Homo sapiens: one gene and its partners. The protein of the gene in region 1 purifies or fractionates together with the protein of each later gene. This does not show direct contact. Each region holds a gene or a part of one and is shown on either strand. Other genes may lie near its edges.

Region 1 (3,500 bases):
CGCCTGAAGCCTAGCTCACCTGGCAGGACACTGCACCATTGCGTTCAAAGAGACAGTGAGCATGGATGTGGCAGGGGCTGTGGGCTGGGCTGTGGCAGGTCCGGGCTGGGAGGCAGCCCTGGCTCTGGTTGCCCAGGAAACCCAGGCGGCAGGGACCACACTTGAAAGAGCCCTAAGAGTGGAGAGGCAGCATCTTAGGAAGGAGGGTGAGCCCACCAGGCACCCAGGACCAGCACTGCTCCACCTGCGGAGTGTGGGCTGGGCACTCAGTTATGCCAGGCATATCAGTATCTCCTTTAGGTTATCATGACAACCTTTCAGGGTGGATAACAGCCTCAGTTTTCAGATGAGGAAGCTGAGGCTCAGAAAAGTTAAATAACCTGCTAAAGAGCTAGCAAGAGGCAAACCAGTATTCCAAACCAAGTCCATGTGAACACCTAATCTGTGTAGTGCCCTGGGGAGGAGGAAAGGCAGCAGGAAATTTGAAGGTAAGAAGGGGCGGGGGTTGGGGTTTTACCATTCCCACCACCCCAGAATACACTCAGGATATTCAGCTCACCACAGTGTTGGTGCAGATGGAGTTTGGGTCACAGCCACCATTGTTGCCATCGTTGCATTCATCGATGTCATTGCAGACCTGAAGGGGCAGACTTTGGGTGGAACCAGACCTATGGTGGGTCTCCTCAGATACAGCAGAGGACACTGGTATGGCCTTATCTGTGAACATCAACATTAAGCCCAGACCCAAAGCCGATGCAAAGCCATCCATGTCCCATTCATCACAAGGGTCCCATGTCCAACCCAGAAGCCCCTGGCCTCTACAAGGCCAAGATCCCTTGTCCACACACACTACCCAGTCTGACCTGTTTGCTGGCCCGGGCATAGTCAATGCCCACACCAGACACCTGTGTGCCCTTGTACCCTCGAGGACAGGCCTCACAGTGGAAGCCGGGCATGGTGTTGATGCAGCTGGAGCCCGGGAAACAGGGGTCAGCGTGAGCACACTGGGGACCAGATGAGAAGGCAGAGGTCAGGCCGCCCTCTGGGAAACTCAGGTCCCTGCCTGTGATCCAGGAACCATTGCTCCAGGTCTCCCCTTTGTGCAGCTCTCCCCACACAACTGCCTTGTGCTCCTGGTCCCCACCCCACTTCCCTCGGGGTTCCCTCTCTCCCTCCCCATGCCACTGGTCACCATCTCAAGCCTCCCCTGCAGTTTCCCCAGCTCCTTCCCTGTATGGCCTTCAGTCTTTGCCCCAGGCCTTCTGTCTCTCCCATCTTGCATTTCTCTTGCCTCTGACCTCTCCTAAACTCCAGATTCCTCTCCTCCGGACCAGCATTTATCCCACCCTCTTGGGTGCCTCCTGACATCCTCACCCCAGTTTTCTGTACCCTTCTGGGCTCTGACCTCCCTCACCTCATTGATGTCACTGCAGTGGGTGCCGTTGCCCTGCAGGCCAGGGGGGCAGGGCCCACAGCGGTAGCCTGGGTACTCGTACACTTCCATGCAGTCCACACCTCGGAAGCAGGGATTGGGGCTGCAGTGGGAACGCTGCTCATGGAAGCCTGAGGGGTGGACACAGTCAGAGCTACCCGGTGGTCACTATTTAAGCCACCAGAAGGGAAAGCCAAAGCCATTGGGTGGGGAACGTGGCACGGTCATGTGGAGCCTCCCCTGCTCTCCCACTCACCGCACACCTGACACTCCATAATGGTGTTTCGGATCAGGGACATTTCCTTCACCTGGAGAAGGATGGGGAGGAGTCAGCACTTGACATCTGCCACCCTACCCCAGAATCAGTGCCACCCTTCGCCAGCCCACCCAAACCTGGTCTCGTATATCATCCCGCAGCTCCACCAGGATCTGGTTGAAGAGGGTGAGTTGGGTGACCAGCGCCTTGGTCTGCTCCCCTGTCGGGACCCAGGGTGTGAGGGGTTCAGTACTGGAGCACCAGTCCTGGGCCCTCCATGGGCAATAAGCCAGTACCTGCCACGGCTGCCCACCCCTGCCTTTAAACCTACTACATTCCTGACTGAAGAGGACTTAGTTTCAGGCAGCTGCCAGAGCCTGGGGCCTCCTCCCCGCTCCCCGCTTCCGCTTCAGTGTGGCCTACTCACCTAGAATGGAGTGCAGTGCATTGGTCACTGGAGAGGAGAAGAAAACATAGTCAGAGGGGTGAGGTGAAGTGAAGAGAGGCCTGGTTGGTGAGAAGGAGGAAGGAAGGTGAGGACAGGGACAGGGCTGGAGCCCCAGAATAAAGATGGGGTGCTGGATGCTGGGAGGGCAGAGCTGGCAGACAAGCAGTGCCAGCTCCTTCTATGGGGCAAAAGGCCCTCTAAGGGAGTTGCTTCACAGGAAGTTAGAACCCAAATCCTCCTGGTTCCTAGGCATGGTAGTGGCAGAAGGGATGGACCCAAAGCAGGGCCAGGGCCCCAGTATATCCCCATTTTTTTTTTTTTTGAGTCGGAGTCTTGCTCTGTTTCCCAGGCTGGAATGCAGTGGCGTGATCTCTGCTCACCACAACCTCCACCTCCTGGGTTCAAGCAACTCTCCTGCCTCCGCCTCCCAAGTAGCTGGGACTACAGGTGCCCACCACCATGCCCAGCTAATTTTTTGTATTTTTTAGTAGAGAGGAGGTTTCACAGTGTTGGCCAGGCTGGTCTTGAACTCCGGACCTTGAGGGATCAGCCCACCTCAGCCTCCCAAAGTGCTGGGATTACAGGTGTGAGCCACCACACCCGCCATCCCATTCCCTTCTTCAAGAGCTCTCCCTCAAATATCTGGGAAAGGTGGGTCTTTTATTTAGGTGAGAGCTTCTGAACATCCCTGTCAGAGAGACCAGGCAGATGGGCAACACTCAGAGAAATTGCTGGTGACAGCTGCCAGTGAGAACTATAAAAGACTCGAGACCAGGCCGGGCGCGGTGGCTTACGCCTGTAATCCCAGCACTTTGAGAGGCCGAGGTGGGTGCATCACTTGAGATTAGGTGTTTGAGACCAGCCTGGCCAACGTGGTGAAATCCCATCTCTACTAAAAATGCAAAAATTAGCTAGGCATGGTGGAGGGCGCCTGTAATCCCAGCTGCTTGGGAGGCTGAGGCAGGAGAATCACTTGAACTCAGTGGAGACTGCAGTGACCCAGATTGCACCACTGCACTCCGGCCTGGGCAACAGGACAAGACTCCATCACCAAAAAAAAAAAAAATACTCGAGACCAGTATCTCTTGGTCAGCCAAGGCCAAGCAATTAACCAATTCTTCTCTTAGATCACTTTTTTTCTCGGATGGGTGTATTGGAGATTGTGGAGTCAGGTGAAAGATTTGGAATAACAGGGTTAGAAACCCTAGGAACAGGTGAGCCAAAGGAATGGGTTTTAAGGGAGAGGGAGATCAAGAAGACAGGAGTCACCAAAGGCCACAGGATCCGTGGTCCAATGTCAGCAAACAAGTCTCTGTGTTACCTGCACTGTGGATGGACTCGTCCCCTTGGAATGGACACTCACT
Region 2 (3,500 bases), on another chromosome or scaffold:
GTTTCTTTATTCATTTATTCACACAATCAATCATTCATTTACCATTTACTGAGTGCCTGCTATGTGCTAGTATATCTTAGGGGTATCTTGGTAACTAGATAGAAAAGATCCCCATCTCTCATGGAGCTGACATTCTGGGGGAAGCAGGGAGACAGACAAAAACCAAACCAACAAGAGACTATTGGGTAGTGATGAGTGCTATACTAAAAACAAAACGGGGAAGGGACTGAGTGATTGGGAGGCTCATTTAGACTGGGTGGTAAGAGAAGGCCTCTCAGAGGCGACACAGGCTGAGACCTAAACTCAGAAAGAACCAGCCATGCTAAGATATGGCAGAAAGGGTTTCAGACAAAGGAAACGGCCCTTAAAAGGCTACAAGGTGGGAATGAACCTGGCTGGGAAGAATGACTGGAAGGTTGTATGGAAGAGATAGGCAGGGGCCAGCTCATTCAGGGTATCAAGTTTACATTTTACTCTAAGTGGGAGGGGAAGCTGTTGGGGTTTTCAGCTCAAAAGGGACATAACTTGTTTACATTTTTTAAAGCTCAACTTGGCTTTGGTGTCTGTGGCAAATCAACGGCAAATGGGAGCAAGGCAGGAAGCAGGGGGATACATCAGAAGTTGAATGCACTGGCCTAGACAAGAGATGGTGGTGGCTTGGTGTAGGGTGCTGGAGAGAACAAATAGGTTCACAACAGCTTTTGAAGACAGAACGGACAGGAACTGTTGACAGATTGGCTGGCTATAGGGAGCTAGGGAAAGTGAGGGATCAAGGATGTTCCCTAGGTTTTTGGCATCAACAACTCAGTAGATGACACTGCCATTCTGTTAGGATGGGGAAGACCAGGGAGGAGAGGTTTGAGGGAAGAGGAGGAATCAAGAGTTCTTTTTGGTCATGTTAGACAGAAATGACAAAAGAGGTAACTGGATATGAGTCTGGAGTCCAGGGAAAAGGTTAAGGCTAGAGGCAGAAACCTGGGAGTCTGAGACGTATTGATGGTATTTAAGCCATAGGATGGATGACGTTGCCCAGGAAGACTGCAGACAGAGAGTAACAGAAGGCCTTGGCTTAGCTGTGGGTACTCTCACGGTTTAAGATCAACAGAAGGGAAGGCATCACCCAAGAAGGATGAGGGGCCACCAGCGAGATAGGAGAGAGAAGTGTGGAGCCAGAAGCCAGAGAAGTGTGTCATGCAGCACAGTGGGCTCTGGAAAATGCTTCAGGAAGGTCAAGCGAGGTGAAAGCAGGGAAGTCTCCACTGGGTTTGGTAAAGTGGATGTGATCTATGACCTTGAAAAGAACAGTAACAGTTTCAGCAGAGGAGTGGGAAAGGAAGCCTGACCAAATGCCTCTAGATCTGTCTGAATGGGTATAAAAGGAGAGACTTAAGAATATTACTTACGAGCAGTTGGCAATTCTACAAAGAAGTGGACGTAGAGATTGTCATACTCATAGCCTTGGGCTGAAACTACGAGAGAAAACAGGAAGCTATTTTAGCTTTTTCTCCTACCACCCTTAGCACCCAACCCAATCCTGAGGGGCCTACACACCCTGAGAGCAAGTCTTTTGAGGGCCAGGAACCCTCTGCGTTTCCAGGAAAGACTCACCACTGAGTTTCCCAAGTACAGCAGACAAGGCCTCTACCAGAGTGGAGGAGACTATTCACAGCTCCATCTAGGCACGTGCCTAAGCATCAAGAGATCTATGCTAGCAAGACACTTACCGACCTCTCCATTTACAAAGAGCCGGAGGGCACCTGGGACAGTCTAAGGTGAAGAGAAGTGGGAAAGGATCAGCAGGCCTGGAGGGAATTGGCACTTCTCCTCCAGCCCCATCTACAAATCTGCAGACGACCTGCCACTAGGGGTCAGGCCCTGGGTGTCACTACTGCACTTTCTCCCCACCCTGACACTTCTCCACAGATCTGTTTCCTTCATTCCTAAGATTCACAATGTAGGGGGAAAGTACATAATTTAAATGGCAGTGAGGACAATGCACTATGGGAAATTATTCAAGCAACAGCAACTGTCCTGTGGTGTGCAATGGGAAGCCAGAACGCCCTCTTCCCTTTAGATGGCTGAGGTCAAGAAACCAGGGAGTTTTCTTTTTTAATTATTTGTGCATGTCTTATCTAACTTTTAAATACTGAATATCTGTTGCTTATGCAATATGGAAATAGTGAAGGTTAATTTTTCAGAGAAAGAGAGGGAGACCAGGAAGTAATTCTATCCTTGTTTCCAGGTCTAGAGATAGAACTCTTAGAATGAGAAAAGACAAAGAACAGCACAACAGAATAGCTGAACTAAACCACTTTCTTTTTTTTTCAGACAGGGTCTTGATCTGTTGTCCAGGCTGGAATGCAGTGGTGTGATCATAGCTCAATGCAAACTCAAACTTCTAGGCTCAAGCAATCCTGCTGCCTCAGCATCATGAGTAGCTGGGACTACAGGTATGTATCACCATGCCTTGCTAATTTTTTTTTTTTTTTTTGTAGGGATGTGGTCTCACTATGTTGCCCAGGCTGCTCTCAAACTCCTGGCTTCAAGTGATCCTCCCACCTTGGCCTCACAAAGTGCTGGGATTATAGTCATGCGCCACCGCATCAGGCCTATATTTTTTAAGAGCCAAAATATGTGACAAACAGAAATGGCACCCCTGCCTCTCTATGGGGTATTTTGAAAAAATATCCACATGAAAGGTGAAGAAGACATTTTTCATCCTTATATTTATTTTTTAAATTAATTATAAAGTAATACCTAAATACATTACAACTGATAAAAATTCAAAGCTACCTAAGTTTAGGGAATAAAAAGCAAAAATCCCTAATATATCCCTCTCACCACCCACTACCCTTCTACCACATCTAATCCCACCCTCCCCAGAGAAAGCCACCCACAGCATGTGCATAGCCTTTCAGACCTTTTTCTTAGCATTAACAGTTCTCTATCAACATGCAATGTTGCAAAACACATAACAAGGACTATATGTGCTATTCTTTGACTTCCTTTTCACACTGTAGAGTATACCTTTGGGCCTTTAAGAGAGGTAGTGTAACTCATCCACAGTCAGAATGCTCCGGCTAAACACAGCTCACAGTGCTGCAGGAAGCCAAGCTACTCACCATCTCAAAGTCGGTGCCTACGAGGCTGCTGAGATACTCCTTGTGCCGGCCATAAAGCTGAGGAAACAAACCAAACCAAAACTCAAGATGCAACCCAAGCTAGACCAAAGTTCAGTTCTGAATGGGAAGAAGAAAAGCAATAGTGGGAAGGGTCAGCAAGAGCTGGAGGCGTAAGCACCTGACTCACCGCCATTTTACCGTGAAGCAGAGGCCCTGGAGTCAGCTGGTCTGGGGCAGAATCCTGACTCTCGCCCTTACAAGCTATGCCACCTTGGGCAGACTACTTAGCTCCTCAATCTCGGTTTCCCCACTTATAAGGTGGTAATAAGTGTTCACCTCAAAGGGTTGTTGTAAAGACTAAAGGAAATAAGGTATGTA
Region 3 (3,500 bases), on another chromosome or scaffold:
ATTAGAAAATTTCTTTTTATCACCCAAAATGTGCCCCCTAGAGGCAATCATAGTTAATGTTTTGGTGCGTTCTAATCTTTTCCCCCATGCATATGTAACTTTTTATATAGTTCAGATCATACCACACATGCAATTTATCTTACTCTTTTCCCATAATTTGCTACTGTAATTTTCTCATGCTATTGAAATGTTTTTGTAAATGTCAAGTTTTTAATAGCTGTGCATTATCTTATTAAATGGATATACTATCCTCTATTGTTAAAATTTAGGTTGTTTCAAATTGTCCCCATAAGTAACACTTAGTGAGTTTTTTTTTTTTTTTTTTGAGACAGGGTCTTGCTCTGTTGCCTAGGCTGGAGTGCAGTGGTGCAATCATGGTTCACTGCAACCTCCTCCTCCCAGGCTCAAGCTATTATCCCACTTCAGCCTCCCAAGTAGCTGGGGCCACAGGTGTGTGCCACCACACCCAGCTAATTTTTGTATTTTTTGTAGAGATGGGATTTTGCCATGTTGCCCAGGTTGGCTCTCGAATTCCTGGGCTCGAGCGATCCACCTGCCTCAGCCTCCCAAAGTGCTGGGATTATACCACGCCTGCCCTAGCATTCTTTTTTTTCTTTTTCTTTTTTTTTTTTTTGAGACAGAGTCTCAATCTTGTTGCTCAGGCTGGAGTGCAGTGGCGCGATCTTGGCTCACTACAGCCTCTGCCTCCCGGGTTCAAGCAATTCTGCCTCAGCCTCCCGAGTACCTGGGACTACAGGCACATGGTGCCATGCCTGGCTAATTTTTTGTATTTTTAGTACAGATGAGGTTTCACCATGTTGGCCAGGATGGTCTTGATCTCCTGACCTCGTGATCCACCTGCCTCGGCCTCCCAAAGTGCTGGGAGTACAGGCGTGAGCCACCATGCCCCGCCTGCACTAGCATTCTTGCACATACCTCTTGCACATATTTCTGAGTAGTTCCTTAGGGTAGATTCCTAGAAGAGAATCACTGGGTACAAACATTTAGGTTCTTGCCAAATTACCTTCCAAAAGAGTTATGTTACCATACATGCCCACTTCCCTGCACTCTTCCTAGCACTGGATTTCATTTTAAATTATTTTTGCTAATTAGGAAGGCAAACAATAGTATCTGATTGTTTTAATTACAGTGTATTCTGAGTTGTTGAGAAAAAATTCCCCACTCTGGGGAAGATAGCAACTGGCTGTTGTACTGAAGGACACCCTCCCTGCCCCAATCCTGGCTAAGGGGCCGAGGGTACCCATTGACCCTCAGTCCTGACTATCGTGGCCCGTGCCTGGGTGTGGGGGTGGTGGAGCACCCCTACCACCCAGTGCCCATAATTATGTGACATATCCCTGTGTTACTCCCTCCCCCAGGGGTTGACAATGGTGAAGACATCCCCCGAGACCTCCTGGTGGGCATCTACCAGCGCATCCAGGGGCGTGAACTGCGGACCAACGATGACCATGTGTCCCAGGTGCAGGCTGTGGAGCGCATGATTGTTGGAAAGAAACCAGTAAGTGCCTTGGGAGGCTGCAGAGGGGCCAGGGTTCAGGTCTGCCTCTGCCACTAAGTGGTAAGTCACTGCACCTCCCTGAGCCCCAGGTGCCCTTTACCTGCAATACAGAGTGGGTGATAATGCATTCCTCAGAAGGCTGTGGTGCAGAGTGAATGCATCGAGCACATTCCAAGGCCCATAGTGGGTACTATATAAATATTAGCATCCTTTTCACCTCCGGCTTTGCCTGTCCATCCTAAGTGAAGAGCCAAGCTAATGGTTAGCAGAAAACCAAAGTAAGAACACACTTTAGGCCAGGTACAATGGCTTGTGCCTGTAATCCCAGCACTTTGGGAGGCCGAGGTGGGTGGATCACCTCAGGTCAGGAGTTCCAGACCAGCCTGGCTATCATGGCAAAACCCTGTCTCTACTAAAAATACAAAAATTAGCTGCGGGCGTGATGGTGCATGCCTGGAGTTCCAGCTACTCAGGAGGCTGAGGCAGGAGAATTGCTTGAACCCGGGAGGCGGAGGTTGCAGTGAGCTGAGATCGTGCCAACGCACTCCAGCCTGGGGCCACAGAGCAAGACTCCGTCTCAAAAAAAGAAAAAAAAAAAGAAAACGCTTTAGCCAACAAACATTTGTGGATGCCTTTCCACTGAGCCCAGCATTTGCTGGGCACCAGAGTTGGTGCTGGGCATTCATAGATATGAATCAGACGTGTTCTCTATCCTTGGGGGCACTCACAGACCAGTCGGGGTGTGAAACAAAGACACATATAATACTTCTGCTTTATGGTCCAGTTTAGGAGAGGAGAAAGGAGAGAGAGACCATTTTCAGCCTGGAGAAATCAGGGAAGGCTTCTTGGAAGAGATCATTTTGGGATTGAATTTTTTTTTTTTTTTTTTTTTTTTTTTGACATGGAGTTTCACTCTGTCACTCAGGCTGGAGTGGAGTGGCATGATCTCGGCTCATTGCAACCTCTACCTCCTGGGTTCAAACGATTCTCCTGCCTCAGCCTCCTGAGTACCTGGGATTGCAGGCGCCCACCACCACACCCAGCTAATTTTTGTGTTTTTAGTAGAGACGGGGTTTCACCATGTTGGCCAGGCTGATCTCGAACTCCTGACCTCAAGTGATCCGCTCGCCTCGGCCTCCCAAAGTGCTGGGATTACAGGCGTGAGCCACTGCGCCCGGCCGGGATGGAAATTTGAAAGGGAGTTGAAATATGACCATGCAGAGCTGGGCAAGAAAGACATTCCAGACAGAAGGGCAAAGGCAAGGTAGCAGATAAGTTTAGGTCTTAGTTGCTGATACCCCTTGTGTCAGAGTGACACACATGTATGAGTGGTAAACTTCTTGCGGTTGAAAGTTAAGGTGCCAGGAGGCCTGAAGCTGATGGGCTGGCCTTGCTGACACCTGTTTCTTCATGCCTGTCTAGGTCCTGTCTCTCCCTCACCGTCGACTGGTTTGCTGCTGCCAGCTCTACGAGGTGCCAGATCCAAACCGCCCCCAGAGGCTAGGGTTGCATCAGCGGGAGGTCTTCCTCTTCAATGATCTCCTTGTGGTATGAGCACTGTGGGGGAGGAGATGGGAGGGAGAGAGTGAGCTTGACACCTAAGTCTGGTGTGAACCATATTGATGTAGGTGTGTGGTGTGTGGAGTGTGGCGGGCGAGGTGTTCTGCCATGCCATCTGCATGGTCTCAGGCAAGGCCCAGGCCTTCTCTGCCCCTCCTTTTCCTCACAGATGCATTTGGAGGTAGTAACAGACACACAGGGACAGAAAATATGAGGACCAAAGGAGATGACAGACTTACAACCTGGGAAGTGGTAGGAAATATCCCTGTCCACCTCAATAGCCCATAGGGTTGTGTGAAGAGGGGTGAACCTGCGACCCCCCAGGTCAGTCTGGAAATCTTCAGTAATCAAGATGCTTGAAGTGGGCTCGGCACTGTGGCTCACACCTATAGTCCCAGAACTTTGGGAGGCCAGGGCAGTT
Region 4 (3,500 bases), on another chromosome or scaffold:
AAGTCGTGTAAGATCTGGCCCTACCCATCCCAACCCTGGGGGCCACTGTGCTCTGTGCACCCCTGCCCTGAACACACCCAGCTCGCCCGGCCTCCAGCTCCTGCAGATGCTATGCTGTTCCTCTTCCTGGAGCTCCCTTTCCCAGACCTCCTCATCTCCCTCAGCTGCCAGCTCAAATGCCGTCTCTCCAGGACGTCCTTCTCTGCAGCCCCGCGCACTCCATCATCCTCTGTCTCCATGGTGTTTCTTGAATCAGAAGCGGTTTGTTTTGGCCAGGCATGGAGGTTCACACCTGTAATACCAGCACTTTGGGAGGCTGAGACAGGAGAATCGCTTGAGCCCGGGAATTCAAGACCAGCCTGAGCAACATAGTGAGGCTTCATCTCTCCAATTTTTTTTTTTTAAATCAGCCAGGTGTGTTGGTGTGCACCTGTAGTCCCAGCTACTTGGGAGGCTGAGGTGGGAGGATCACTTGAGCCCAGGAGGTCGAGGCTACACTGAGCTATGATCGCAGCACTGCACTCCAGCCTGGACAACAGAGTGAAACCCTGTCTTGAAAATAAAGGAAGAGAAGAAAAGAAACAAGTTTGTTTATGTTCTTGTGCACTTGTTTCTCATTATTACTCTAACTGAACATAGGTCCCATGAGAGGAAGGGCCCCGGCACATAAGAATCACTGAGGTACTAGATGGATAAGTGATTGAATGAATGAATGATGGATGAATGAATGAATGATGAATGAATGAATGAATGAATGCAGGCCTTGGGCTGGGCTAAGAATCCAAGCGGGAGGCATTCTCACGTGGCCATACCATGCTTCTGTTCTGTGGTTCCATTTCCTCTTTCCATTCTTTTTGTGCCTGTTTTTGATAGAGTCCGTGTGTGAGGCATCCCCGTACCTCTGCCTGCCCCTTCCCAGCAGCATGGCTGTGGCTGCACTCAGAGCACCCCTCTGTCCTGGCCACTTCTCTCCCACCAGAGCCTCTGTCCGTGATGGTGTCAGCTGAAGAATGACAAGGTTTGTTCATTTGGAAAGGAGAGCCTCATTCCTCATAAAGGGTTGCAGCCTGTGGGTGGCTATTCTGACAGGTTGGGAAGCAGAGCCTCCTGCCAGAAGCCAAAAACAGACACTTCAAGGGAGGGGCAAAGGCAACAAGAATTTATGGATATTGGTGGCCAAATATACATATTCAATAAGCCGTAGGGGGAGTCATGAGTATTTATGAAAGGAGAAATGTGCACATTCACATTTAAGCCTTGTGCTCCTTCAGGGGTCCCATGTACAAAAAATGGTGGCAGTGGCATGATTCAAGGGTAGGGTTTTCTTTCAGCCCCCTGATGCGTCAGAGGCGAAGCAGGGGACATGAAACCCTCGCTGTGCATCCTCTGTAGACTGGCCAGAAACACTGCGTGGTCGGTGGGCTCCCGTCAGGCAAAGAGGAGGGGCAGCGTCTGGCAGTGGTAGAGGCCTTTGAAAGGGAACCCAGCTTTTTAAGAATCAGAAAAGTCATTCAGCAGCGCCCTTTTGATGCAAGAGACTATTCCCAATTCTCGGGATACTGTCAGCACTCGGCACATGGTCTCTGTTATGGTGGGGAAGGAAGGGGAGTCAGCTGGAGATAGCCGTGGGCAGTGGCCATCAGCCATGGGAGCAGAAGCAGCCCACGGTGGCCTCAGGCCCAGGGAGAACTTCCTAAGGGGCCAGAGTGAGCTGTCACAACTGGTCCTGGATCCACCATAAGAACGAAGCCGTGGGGTGTGGTGACCTGGAGCCGTCGGTGATGGCTGTAGCAGGGGCGTTTTGGTCAAGTTGCGGGAGGTAGGGAAATAGGCGTGTCGGGCTCTGTAGAGAAGTTTCTATGAGAAAGGGAAGGAGTTGCTGTGGGATGCAAAGCAAGGGAGGGTGGTTGTTTTGGGAGTGGAGTGGGGGCCGGAATAAACCCAAAGAGACTTGAAAACTAACAGAAATAAGGAAGCTAGCAAGTGCATGGGGCGCATTGGGGCGGGAAAGACTGGTGTGGTGTGAAGGGACTCTCTGTGGATTGGGAGAAGACCCACTTTAACCTCCAGAAGAGGAGGAGTTGATGGACAGTGTGCATTGGATGGGGTCCTGAGGGATTCCTCCCAGGCAGCCCCAAAGCCAGAGCCTGTGGCTGTTAATGTGGGAGAGGGAAGGAGGATGGGCCCATTGTCCAGATGCCATGTGCAGAAGGCTTCCCCTCGAGTTTTGGGGCATGTTGGGAAGGAAGCAGGATGGAATAAACATGCAGCAAAAAAGCCTAAATTGTATTTCTTTGTACTTTATAAGAGTATTTTCCCCCGCCCCTTTTTTGAGAAAAGGTCTCGCTCTGTCTCCTAGGCGGGAGTGCAGTGGTGTGATCACAGCTCACTGCAGCCTCGAACTCCTGGGCTCAAGCAGTCCTCCCACCTCAGCCTCCCAAGTAGCTGGGACTACAAGCAGGTGCCACCACACCCAGCTAATTTTTTTTTTTTTTTGTCTGTAGTAGAGACAAGGTTTGATTGTGTTGCCCAGGCCGGTGTGGAACTCATTGAGCTCAAGCTATCCTCCCACCTCAGCCTACCAAAATGCTGGTATTATAGGGGTGAGCCACCATGGCTGGACAAGAATATCTCTTGAAGCAAGTTCCCAGACTCTGGCCGCCAGGCCCGCTATTCCTGTCAATGGCGTTTTGTTGGAACTCAGCCACACCCATTCCCATCTGCATCGTCTGTGGCTTTCAGGCTTCGTGTGTCCCACAAAGGCAAAAGTACTATCTGTCCCTTTATAAAGTTCAGTCACCCTGACTGAAATCATGGTGTACTCACTGTAACAAAATTCCAGTTGAAACCAGGGTAGTGCAGCAGTCCATCGAGTGTTTCCTGGTGTACCTGTGTGCCCATAAAAAGAGGAAGCTGCAAGGATCAAGTTCATAGAGCTAGAGCCTCCTGCTGTGAAATTTTTCTATTGCTAAGAATTGGTTGGCACCCAAAATTTGTCCTTTAAAAATATGCATCAGTTATGCCTTGTTGATGGTGTGGGTGGTTTGTAACAAACTAAACCAGGGCTGGGCTCAGTAAAAGTTGTGTAAGTGAGTGAGGGAGAGATGCCTTCATTCTTGGTGTTGGAAGTGCCGACCTCTCCTTTCATCTGGGATCCATGGAAATGGGACCTTGGCTGCCCCTGGATGGAGTCCAGGCGCTCTCCTTCCCAGGGGCCAGAGAACACCTGTGTTTCCCAGGACCTTGGGGACCTGTGCCCAGTTCCCCTGGGGAGAGAGCGGTTTTGATCACTCGCACCAGGAATGACTCGAGTCAGAAGCAGGTGACTTTGACCTGTTCTGTTACCTAGAAAATGAGGCCACTTTGGAGCCAGGCAGCTGTGCACACAGCCAGATTAGCTTGGTGTGTGCTGAGTAGCCACGAAAGAGCTGAGTTGGGGACATTGAGTGACTTCGTGTCAAACCCTGTGGTGGTCCAGCACACCTTCCCAGGACCACAGA
Region 5 (3,500 bases), on another chromosome or scaffold:
GAGTGAAATTGAATGGTATGTCTAAATATCTAAAATATAGGTGTTCAGGCCAGGTGCAGTGGTTCATACCAGTAATCCCACCACTTTGGTAGGCTAAAGCAGGAGGAACACTTGAGGTCAAGAGTTTGAGAGCAGCCTGGACAACATAGTGAGACCCTGTCTCTACAAAAAAAGGGAGAAATTTTAAATAGAATTTTTAAAAAAGAAAAAAATATAGGTGTTTAAAAGCAAGGGTATAAGTTGAGGGCACAGCTAAAGCTTTTACTTGAGATTTGGAAAGTGATTTTAGGTATTTTTTAAGGGCTTTATTAAAAAAGTTAGATCTTTCAGATCAAGCCCCGTGACTTTCTTTGTCTTCAGCTCAGAGCTGATCTTACATATGTCACCTACAATTTGGGTTCTTTAGCCAGGCGTGATGATGTGTGCCTATAGTCCCAGCTACTCGGGAAGCTGAGGTAAGAGGACCGCCTGAGCCCAGGAGTTTTGGGCTGTAGTGGGCTGTGCTAACCAGGTATCTGCACGAAGTTTGGCAGCAACATGGTGACCTTCTAGGAGTGGGGAACCACCAGCTTGCTAAGGAGGGGTGAACCGACCCAAGTAGGAAAGGGAGCAGGTCAAAACTCCCATGCCAATGAGTAATGGGATTGTGCCTATGAATATTCACTGCACTGCAGCCTGGCAACGTAATAAGACCTCGTCTCTAAATAATAATGATAATAATTTGTGTTCTTAACCAACAGAGAAAGGGTGTTTATAGTACTGTTATTCATGGTGCAACAGCATTTCCTGGCACACAAATCAAACCTCTCCTGTTTGCCTTTGGAGTGCTGTGGCCTTTGGCGAGAAGCCAGGTCTGCCCACAGCCCCAGGCTCTGTCCTTTCTGCCTGTGCAAGGTGGGAGCCGGATATTAGAGAAGACTTGGCCAGGGGCTCTGAGCAGAGAGCTGTGCTGGGAACCCTCAGGACCCCTATCCACTCCAGCTTCCTAAGATGTGTTAGCTGCATACCTCTGGGTGAGAAAACGGGCAGAGGAAGAGTGACTTTCCGAAGGGTGATGCAAACCACCAGCTCTTACAGAGGGGAGATGCCGGATCACGGCCTCTGGGTGTGAGAATTGAGGAGATGTGGTGTAGAGTTGAGAAGTAAGAATATCCCTGACAGTTTTTCATCCCCACCTCTTGATTCTGAGAAGAATACCCACTCAAAAATATCTGATGAGAAGATGTGGAGAGGCCGAGTGCGGTGACTTACACCTGTAATCCCAGCACTTTGGGAGGCTGAGACGGGCAGATCACTTGAGGTCAGGAGTTTGAGACCAGCCTGGCCAACGTGGTGAAATCCCTTCTCTACTAAAAATACAAAAATTAGCCAGGCATGGCAGCGCATGCCTGTAGTCCCAGCTACTCGGGAGGCTCAGACAGGAGAATTGCTTGAACCTGGGAGGCGGAGGTTGCAGTGAGCTGAGATTGCTCCATTGCACTCTAGCCTGGGCAACAGAGCAAGACTCTGTCTCAAAAAAAAAAAAAAAGAAGAAAAGACAAGCTGTGGTGACACCTTGTATAGCTTCTTCAGTATGTGATGTTCCTGTGCCTTCTGATTAGTGCTCAGCGTGGTTCTCTGTGTTAGTTCCATGACCTTCTACTTTTATGTGTTTCCAGTAATTTGAATAGATAACCAGGATTATTATTAATTGGTATGTGGTATTTGGAAATGCTGTATCTGTTCCTGAAACTTACATGTTGATGACGTACTCACCTCAGAATTTCTCTAGAAAATGCATAGGGCTTATTGAGAGGGTTGCTCAGTGGTGTCACCTTCTTTGTCCACTTGCAGCTGAAACATTAACAAACGTGCTGGATTTCAAAAGGGATGCTGGTCTGTGGCATGGCGTGTTAACAGTGAGTGTTGTTTGCTGATGACTAACTGTTGGAACAAGGGATTGAGATGAACCCAAGCCTCTGCCTGAAATGTTGTTGGGAGAGTACATCGGTTTTGTTTTGCTTTTTCTGGTGTGGCTCGGGCCCACTCGCCCTAAGCATGTGTGCTCCCCCACAGAGCGTCATGAACAGGATGCACGTGGTCAGCGTCCCCTACGCGCTGATGAAGGCGAACCCACTCTCCTGGATCCAGAAAGTGTGCTTCTATAAAGGTAACGGATACCATGGTCAGGGCCTTCACCCTTCTTTAGGGAAATCTCTTTGAACTGACCTTTGGTGCTTAAGAAAAAATAAAGCTGACATGTGGAACTGCAGATGTAGGCTGAAGAGCTGTGGGACGTCTTTCTTGGTCACACCCCTGCCCAGGAATATGGGGGCTTTCTCTGCCTCTGGCATGGCCCTCAGGGTTTCGTGGGTGATGTGGTAAGTAGGGCCACTTGGTGGGGTCTGGGCCTTACTTCTCTCAACGGTTGAGGTGCCTCCTGGGACCAAGCAGGAGGCCCCAGCATGGCCACACCTGCACAGTTGGCAGTCTGTGTCTCTGCCCTGTGGAGCTCAGTGGCACTTCTACCAGCCACTGAGGCACTGGATCACCTGGGTCACCCATGTTGCCTTGTTCTACCTACTGGGCTGTGCCCCTCTAGACATGTCTCAGAGCAGTGTGGAGGGGCAGCTCTCTCTGTCTGTCCTACTTTATGGAGGGAAACTGAAGCTTGGGTAGGGGTGGGGGGATTGCTGGATTCCACATGCTAGCCAGTGCAGGGGCCAGACTGAGGCCTGAGACCATCTGTTTAGCTTCTGGGGTCCTCACACTTCTCAGCCAGCACCAGGGGTTTGGGGAAGGACAACATGAGATGAAGCGGGCAGATAGGAAAAGAGCAATATGGAGCTTCTAAGAAAAAATTAATGTTGGAAATGGATCTGAGGTTTTGATGTCTAAATTGTACCTCAGAGTTGATTTTTGTGGAAAAAGCTTTGAGGGTTTGTTAGACTGCATGTGAGAGACGGCTGCAGAGAGCTTGTGACCTGGGAGCTAAGTGTTGTGTCTGTCTGTGCATGTACACCTCTCTGTGGGATGAGGTACACGTGTCTGTAGGCGTGTGAGGGTGCCAGTCCTTGTGACGCAGGGATGTCTGTGCCATCCTCTCTCTGCAGCTCGGGCCGCGCTGGTGAAGTCGCGAGACATGCACTGGTCTCTCCTAGCTCAGCGGGGCCAGAGGGACGTCAGCCTCAGCTCACTGCGCATGCTGATTGTGGCCGATGGTGCCAACCCGTGTGAGTGAGCCTGTGTGCCCGGCGCATACCCCACACAGTGTCCCCTCCTGCAAACCAAAGTAGAATACACTGAGAAGCAAAATGGAGGCATTTTCACTGCCATTGTCATATAGATACACATGTCCCATCGTTTCTATGACACGGAACATCTTGGTGATTCACTGGTTTATCCCATGCATGTTTATTAGGCCACTAAATTTAAAAGCAATTTTAATATGCTTGATGAAAGGTACATGCCTTAATGAGAGTCATCTTTCTTAAGAAATTACCAGATTGTGCTGTGGCCTG
Region 6 (3,500 bases), on another chromosome or scaffold:
TCTCCTGCCTCAGCCTCCCAAGTAGCTGGGACTACAGGTGCCCACCACCACGCCCGGCTAATTTTTTGTATTTTTAGTAGAGATTGGGTTTCACCGTGTTAACCAGGATGGTCTCGATCTCCTGACCTTGTGATCCGCCCGCCTCGGCCTCCCAAAGTGCTGGGATTACAGGCGTGAGCCACCGCACCCAGCCAGGGATTTCTATTGTTTTTGAGAGGGCTACCCTGTCCTATCAACAGAGAATGAGAAATAGAGCATAACCGAGCCAAGAACCCAAAATAAGGAATCCAGCTTTTCTCCTCTTGTTGACTCTGACCACAGAGGTTCCATGTAAAATGGTGAGGCAAAGAATTGAGACACTGCTTTAGCCTTATGTGTAGGGAGGAAAATGTATAGCTCTGTATCCCAGCATTCCCTGTATTCTGGACTCATTTCCTGCAGCAGTTTACTAGAAGGAGAGCACAGCTGATAGATGCACTAACTCATACATAAGAGCCTTCATGTCCAAGGTCTGTGGCATAGCCAGCCTGGGTCCTCTGCCAGGAGAGACAGTCCTTGTTTGGAGTGCCTGATGTTCATCCCTGGTCAATATCCAGTGCTTGGTTCTGGCCAGTGCTCAGTACCCCCAGTCTCAGGGTGGTGGTGCTCTGTGGAACCCCATTTAGGCTCCATGTCACCTCTTCGAGGTTTTCCAGATTAAGTCCACGAGTCTGGTGGAAAATGCCAGGCTGGCACTTAGCAGTCACTTCCCACCTCTCTCTCCTATCATAAATTTAGCAAACGTCTTTGAGCTAGCTTTCAGTAGGAAAACTACAGAATGCCCACTCTTTGTACTTTCAAAGGAAAATAGGCACTAGAACCTCATGAGACAGGCTGGCAAGCCAGTTCTGTTCCTGAACTTCTATTGTCTCAACTCTGTAGAACCCTGCTTTCCTCCTGAGTGCCGAGCACATAGTTCTTTTCCCCGCAAGGAAAGCAGGGTTGGAGTAAGTGGCCCAATGGGTCCAAGGACAGATACAGATGAGCGTTTTAAGCTGCACTGGGCTTGAGAAGGGAAGCCCTGCAGAAGTTCCTGTGAGCCCTGGAAAGGAATTCCACTGTTGGTGTAGCCTCTTCATCCTGTCCCTGGTGCTCCACTTCCCCAAACCAGGCTGCATGGGAGCCAGCTCCACTATCACCTATCTGGCTGGCTGGAGCACAGCTCAGTGTTCCTTAGCAGTGTCCACATAGGTTCCAGAGCTCTGGCCTTTCTATTCACTGAGGTGGTCCAACCACCCTCCACTGAAGAAGGTGGTCTCTCCCTATGCCACAGTGCTGTCCCCCATCTCATTCCTATGCAGGGCTTCCATGGTGAGTCATACACACCATGACTCAGCTGTTGAGCTTGATCGAGATCCTAGGTTAGAGGCCCACTGTCACCTATTTATAATTAATTATAGGCAGATTCAGGCTTCCTGATGTTCCAGGTTTACTGTAGTACTTAGAAGAGTTTCATAATACTAACCTGGTATGCTTCCCCTCCACCTTGCTGCACTCTCACACCCCTTTGCTGCTAGAGAGAGCAGCTTTGAGACTGTGGGGCAGTGTGAGCAGAGGAATTTGCAGCCTGATTGGACCTTAAAGAGGACTAGGTTATAGCCTGACTCTGTCATTGCCTTGCTGCCTGAGGATTAAAGAGGGAAGTAGTTCATGATTTCTTTATCTGGAAAATTGGGTTAGTAGCTGTTCCTGCTACCCATCCTATTCCCCGTTAGTAGGTTGAATAACCCTAACTCACTATGACACTCGCCAACTACTGCGCAGCCCTGGTTATGCATCAGAATTGCTGGGGAAGCTTTCAAAAAATACAGGTGCCTAAGCCCCACCCCAGATCTATTGGGGCAGAATCAGGGTGAGACTGGAGCCTGTGCTTTTTTTCCTTCACAAAGGAAGGAGAAAGGTTAATTTTAAAAACATAAAATTCACACACCATAAAACCATACTTTTAAAGTATACAATTCAATTTTTTTATTCATAAGGTTGTACAGCCAACATCACTGTTTCATTCCAGAACATTTTCAACATCTCAAAAAGAAACTCTGCACCCATTAGCAGTCATTCCCTGTAGCTTCCCTCATAGGCAATGGCAACTGCTGATCTGCTGAATAGAATCATATAATATGTGAGAAATGTTTAGTTTTTAAAGTTACACAGATAATTCCAATGTGCAGCCAGAATACAGAACCATTATTCATCAGATGGCATTATTAAGGACTCCGCCTGCAATGAGATTTTGTGGATTATTGAGTAAGAGCCAAGGGACCCTTCCCCCTAGGGTTTTTGGGGCCTGGATGGCTGTGTATTTGAGGGGGAGACCGAAGCCAGTAGAAGTAATCAGATGATCCACTGCTTAGTGCAGCAGCAGCTTCTCCCATTGGTGTGGGTGGGTAGGCCACATGCCTGGAGAAACACACCCCCTCAGAGCTCTCATGGCTGTCATGGGGGATGCAGAGGGACAGGCATAGCTCTTGCCCTCAAGGTGTGTATGGTCTGTCAGGAAGATGAGAAAGTCCATCTGCATTCCTTTTCCCCACCATGACTCGGGACACGCTCTTGTGGTGCTTTTGTTTGTCCTCTGTGATTGAGAAACCTTGTCCTTGAGGAGGGGGGTTTTTGGACTCTGGATCTGGGGTTCATTGGGCCTTTTTCCTGCAGGTGGCGGGAAATGTTTTTTAAAGTGAAGAAAACAGTTGGGGAAGCTCCAGATGGACCAGCCAGTGCCTACTTGGCCGACACCACCCATACCTCCTTGTACATGGTGAGGCCCCAAGGATGGGTGTAGACCAGCGCAGGGGGTAGAAACGATTTTTAGAAACGAAAGCTTTTTATTACCTTTCACAGGTGGGTTCTACCCTGAGCCCTGTTCCATGGCTCCCTTCAGAGGAATCCACTCTCTGGAGCAGTTTGTCTCCTCCAGGCCTGGAGGCCTTGGTGTCTGAACTCTGTGCTGTCCTGAAGCCTCGCCTCCAGCCAGGGTGAGTGAGGTCATCACCCCAGGGTGTGAGAAAAGCCTGCTTAGAACATCCCTGGAGGAGCAGCAGCCAGATGGGTAGTTCCTAATGAACTGGCCAGAGTGGGATTGGGAGGACCTTCCTCAAACCAGTATGTCCTACACAAGGCCACCAGGCCACTCCTTTCTGTAAGCCAATTCCCAGGCTCCTTTCCTGGGATAACCTCTGTCCTCCAGGGCTGGCTCTGGAGGAAGAATCTCCAGCAGGGGCATCTGTTTCTGAGACTGCCCTTCCCCTTGGGGAGCTCACTGGCCATCCTGCACTTTACTGCCCTGGCCCTGAAGGACACAACTCCTCATACCAGTGGCCCAGGTGTGGACGCAGATCCCCACCTCAGTGCCACCACAATGTCTCTCAATACCATTCAGACCAGTCATAACGTTGAGGTTTTATTGGCAGCACAGCAATGCCAAAGGGAATTAATTAGTCTTTGGCTGTTGGATATGCTGG
Region 7 (3,500 bases), on another chromosome or scaffold:
CCTTAAATTTGGATTTTTAAAAACGTTTGTCTCAATAAGGCCTGAAGTTCTTTATATGAATTCATTCTCTTCCTATCCTCAATCCAGAAGTTAAGACATTCCTATGATGCATCAGACTTTCAGGCCTCTTTTATAAAACTGCTAGGTTAATTTTTCCCCCATTACGTGCATGCATCTTTATTTTGTTTTTAATTCTAAATACAGGATAGTATTCTGTCTTTTTTTTTTTTTTTTTCTTTTGAGAAGGAGTCTCTCAGTCACCCAGGCTGGAGTTCAGTGGCGCTATCTCGGCTCAGTGCAACCTCTGCCTTCTAGCGATTCTCCTGCCTCAGCCTCTTGAGTACCTGGGATTACAGGCACGCGTTACCACACTTGGTTAATTTTTTGTATTTTTAGTAGAGATGGGATTTCACTATGTTGGCCAGGCTGGTTTGGAACTTCTGACCTCAAGTGATCCACCCTCCCTGACCTCCCAAAGTGCTGGGATTACAGGCATGAGCCACTGCACCTGGCCTATTCAGTCATTTCTTAATGTTAGTTTGTGCTTACCATATTGTATTATCAAGACCATTGCACATTTCAATCTGTCATAAAATATTAGCACTTATTAGTTCTTCCTTTTAATTTGTTATAGATTTGATAAACCTTTGGTGAGGCAATAAATTACCTCAACTTTCTGTTCCCGCCTTCACAACTTTGTCATCGTGTCTACATCATTCTTAACCTACTGTTGTTTACGGCTTTAGATTCTACCTTTTTCATCTTCTCAAGCACATTGCTCCATTTTTTTTAATCAAACTTTTCTATCTCATTCTCAAATGTAATCCCTGCTCTTTGCCAGCAGTCCACCTGCAGGGATATATTTGCATAAATGTGCAAAGACATTGCATACAGATGACATTGCAGCATTGTTTGTAATAGTGAAAAAATGGTAAACCACCTAAATATTTATCAATAGAGATTTGGCTAAACTATGATAAATACATATTTAAGAGTATATACTTTTTAAAAGAAATAAAGTAAATGTGTATCTTCTGATACGGGAAAATGTCCCCAATATATTAAATATCTTACAGCATGTTACAGAATATATAGTAAGATTTCAGTAAATTTCAGTTGTGTAAAAGATGTGTATCTATGGATACAAGTGTATATGTTTACATATACCTTGAAAATGTCTGAAAAGGTAAGTACCACAACTTAATGGTTGGCTGTTAGGGTAAGAGGACTGGGAGAGGACTTATGCTTCTACCTGAGAAAATTCTACACTGTTTGGGCCGGGCGCCATGGCTCACGCTTGTAATCCCGGCACTTTGGGAGGCCGAGGCAGGAGGATCACCTGAGGTCAGGAGTTCAAGAGCAGCCGGACCAACATGGTGAAACTCCTTCTCTACTAAAAATATAAAAATTAGCCTGGCGCAGTGGCAGGTCCTGTAATCCCAGCCACTCGGGAGGCTGAGGCAGGAGAATTGCTTGAACCCTGGAGGTGGAGATTGCGGTGAGCCGAGATCACACCACTGCACTCCAGCCTGGGCAATAGAGTGAGACTCTGTCTGGAAAATAAAAAAGAAAATTCTATGCTGTTTGACTTTACTTTTACAATACGCAGTTGGACATCAGTTTAGACTCAGTAAAAATCAGAGACGAGTGTGTAGGTGGCATTCACAACTGAAAAGGTGGTAAGGTGGTCTAGGCAGAGCCTGTAGCATAAGAGAAGGAAATAAGGACCACTTGGAGGAAGGACAGTTGGTAGACTGAGATCTAATTGAAAAGAATAGCCTCTGCCCTCAATATGGAAGAAAGTATTCTTCCATATTGTTAAATAAATATAACACTATGAATTACATTCCTTCATAGTTGTTAAAGTAAGGTAATACAGAGGTGGAAGAGATTCTGCCATGGAGAGTCAGAAGTCTTCACAGACCTGAGCAAGATTTGGAGGGTGAATGGGAGTTTGCCAGACAGAAAATGAGAAGGTAGACATTCCAACCAGAAGGAAGAAGACATAGATAGTTCATAGCATGTGATAGTATTGTGTGTGTAGAGTACCATATGTGAAAAGTACAACAGAAAGAAATGGTATAAGTGACATGAAAGAGGGGAGATGGGACATGGTGCAAGCACTTTATACCCATGCTATGGAGTTGAGATGTGATCCTAAAGGCAGTGGGGAAACCATTAAAGGATTTAAGCAGGTAAGCCAAAGAATAAGACTTAAAAAAAAAAGACCATTTTATAAAGAACACTTTGGCAGTTATGTGGAGGATAGCTTGAGAAAAACAAAACTAGGGTGAATGAGACTAGTTTAGGAGTCAGATTATTGTGATACAGGCCTGAAATAAGAGATTGATGTTAAAGAATTGTCATTGGGAATGGAGGCGAAGGCACATAGTTAAAAGCTGTATTTTCAGGCTTGGCGTGGTGGCGTCATGCCTGTAATTTCAGCACTTTGGGAGTCCAAGGAGGGAGGACTGCTTGAGGTCAGCAGTTCAAGACCAGCCTGACCAACGTAGTGAAACCCCATCTCTACTAAACATACAAAAATTAGCTGGGCGTGGTGGCGCACGCCTGTAATACCGGCTACTGGGGAGGTTGAGGCATGAGAATCGCTTGAACCTGGGAGGCGGAGATTGCAGTGAGCTGGGGTTGTGCCACTGCACTCCAGCCTGGGTGACAGAGGGAGACCTTGTCTCTTTAAAAAAAAAAAGAAAAAAGATAGTAAGATAGTGGGTTTGGAGTATTTCCTTGATCCATCAGTTTCATAGCCTTTTGGAAGAAAATGAGGCTAAAAGCTTCTGCTGATTTCTATACATCATTTACATTTTCTGTTCTATTTAATTTCTTTGGAATTTTAAGATTTTTTTTTTTTTTTTGAGACAGTCTCCCTCTGTCACTCAGGCTGGAGTGCAATGGTGCAATCTCGGATCACTGCAACCTCCTGGGTTGAAGTGATTCTCCTACCTCAGCCTCCCAAGTAACCGGGACTGCAGACACACGACACCACGCCTGGCTAATTTGGGCAGGCTGGTCTCAAACTCCTGGCCTCAGGTGATCCGCCCACCTCCGTCTCCCAAAGTGCTGGGATTACAGGTGTGAGCCACCGCGTCTGGCCTTGTTAAGGGTATTGATATCAGACTTGGTGGTTTATGATCTCTAGAGTCTACCATTCCAGACTTTTTAAAGAAACACCTTAAACTACTTAACTGGAAGTTAAAATCTTGGGGGAAAAAAATTAGTTGTTAACATTCAGGTTTGTGCTTTAATACTCTCTTAGAACTTGAATAATTTTTTTCTCTCTATACTTAGTTCATTTGTTGACCTTCCCATTGTGGCTAGTGGGTTATTAATATTTAATTCTTCACTGTCACAATTCTTGTCTTGATTCCCTGTGATTGTAAAACTCCTAGCCTCTTTCTTTCCTTAGTAAAATTATCAGGGAGCTCTTCATGGGCAGTAACGAGGTTTTAAATTCTTTGATTTCCCTGATACAGAGCGCATGA

What was found.
Region 2: the proteins of THBS3 (region 1) and MKS1 purify together in Homo sapiens (affinity purification with mass spectrometry; 3 studies listed by BioGRID and IntAct, with this or other methods). This does not show direct contact.
Region 3: the proteins of THBS3 (region 1) and IQSEC2 purify together in Homo sapiens (affinity purification with mass spectrometry; 3 studies listed by BioGRID and IntAct, with this or other methods). This does not show direct contact.
Region 4: the proteins of THBS3 (region 1) and SH3BP4 purify together in Homo sapiens (affinity purification with mass spectrometry; 3 studies listed by BioGRID and IntAct, with this or other methods). This does not show direct contact.
Region 5: the proteins of THBS3 (region 1) and DIP2A purify together in Homo sapiens (affinity purification with mass spectrometry; 3 studies listed by BioGRID and IntAct, with this or other methods). This does not show direct contact.
Region 6: the proteins of THBS3 (region 1) and PEX6 purify together in Homo sapiens (affinity purification with mass spectrometry; 3 studies listed by BioGRID and IntAct, with this or other methods). This does not show direct contact.
Region 7: the proteins of THBS3 (region 1) and MTPAP purify together in Homo sapiens (affinity purification with mass spectrometry; 3 studies listed by BioGRID and IntAct, with this or other methods). This does not show direct contact.

Annotation. Positions count from the first base shown.
Region 1 is NC_000001.11:155,201,398-155,204,897, forward strand, and holds part of THBS3 (thrombospondin-3 isoform 1 precursor), read right to left. Parts: coding exon 3,458-3,500; intron 2,143-3,457; coding exon 2,116-2,142; intron 1,909-2,115; coding exon 1,826-1,908; exon of another isoform or gene 1,741-1,825; coding exon 1,689-1,740; intron 1,564-1,688; coding exon 1,415-1,563; intron 1,005-1,414; coding exon 864-1,004; intron 718-863; coding exon of another isoform or gene 638-717; coding exon 560-637; intron 173-559; coding exon 20-172; intron 1-19. UniProt on the Homo sapiens protein: Adhesive glycoprotein that mediates cell-to-cell and cell-to-matrix interactions. Can bind to fibrinogen, fibronectin, laminin and type V collagen.
Region 2 is NC_000017.11:58,209,256-58,212,755, forward strand, and holds part of MKS1 (tectonic-like complex member MKS1), read right to left. Parts: intron 3,180-3,500; coding exon 3,123-3,179; intron 1,768-3,122; coding exon 1,725-1,767; intron 1,470-1,724; coding exon 1,404-1,469; intron 1-1,403. UniProt on the Homo sapiens protein: Component of the tectonic-like complex, a complex localized at the transition zone of primary cilia and acting as a barrier that prevents diffusion of transmembrane proteins between the cilia and plasma membranes.
Region 3 is NC_000023.11:53,241,351-53,244,850, reverse strand, and holds part of IQSEC2 (IQ motif and SEC7 domain-containing protein 2), read left to right. Parts: intron 1-1,379; coding exon 1,380-1,519; intron 1,520-2,941; coding exon 2,942-3,067; intron 3,068-3,500. UniProt on the Homo sapiens protein: Is a guanine nucleotide exchange factor for the ARF GTP-binding proteins.
Region 4 is NC_000002.12:235,046,017-235,049,516, forward strand, and holds part of SH3BP4 (SH3 domain-binding protein 4), read left to right. Parts: intron 1-3,500. UniProt on the Homo sapiens protein: May function in transferrin receptor internalization at the plasma membrane through a cargo-specific control of clathrin-mediated endocytosis.
Region 5 is NC_000021.9:46,535,391-46,538,890, forward strand, and holds part of DIP2A (disco-interacting protein 2 homolog A), read left to right. Parts: intron 1-1,833; coding exon 1,834-1,898; intron 1,899-2,055; coding exon 2,056-2,149; intron 2,150-3,092; coding exon 3,093-3,212; intron 3,213-3,500. UniProt on the Homo sapiens protein: Catalyzes the de novo synthesis of acetyl-CoA in vitro. Promotes acetylation of CTTN, possibly by providing the acetyl donor, ensuring correct dendritic spine morphology and synaptic transmission.
Region 6 is NC_000006.12:42,969,182-42,972,681, reverse strand, and holds part of PEX6 (peroxisome biogenesis factor 6), read left to right. Parts: intron 1-2,694; coding exon 2,695-2,797; intron 2,798-2,880; coding exon 2,881-3,014; intron 3,015-3,500. UniProt on the Homo sapiens protein: Component of the PEX1-PEX6 AAA ATPase complex, a protein dislocase complex that mediates the ATP-dependent extraction of the PEX5 receptor from peroxisomal membranes, an essential step for PEX5 recycling.
Region 7 is NC_000010.11:30,342,779-30,346,278, reverse strand, and holds part of MTPAP (poly(A) RNA polymerase, mitochondrial precursor), read left to right. Parts: intron 1-3,500. UniProt on the Homo sapiens protein: Polymerase that creates the 3' poly(A) tail of mitochondrial transcripts. Can use all four nucleotides, but has higher activity with ATP and UTP (in vitro). Plays a role in replication-dependent histone mRNA degradation.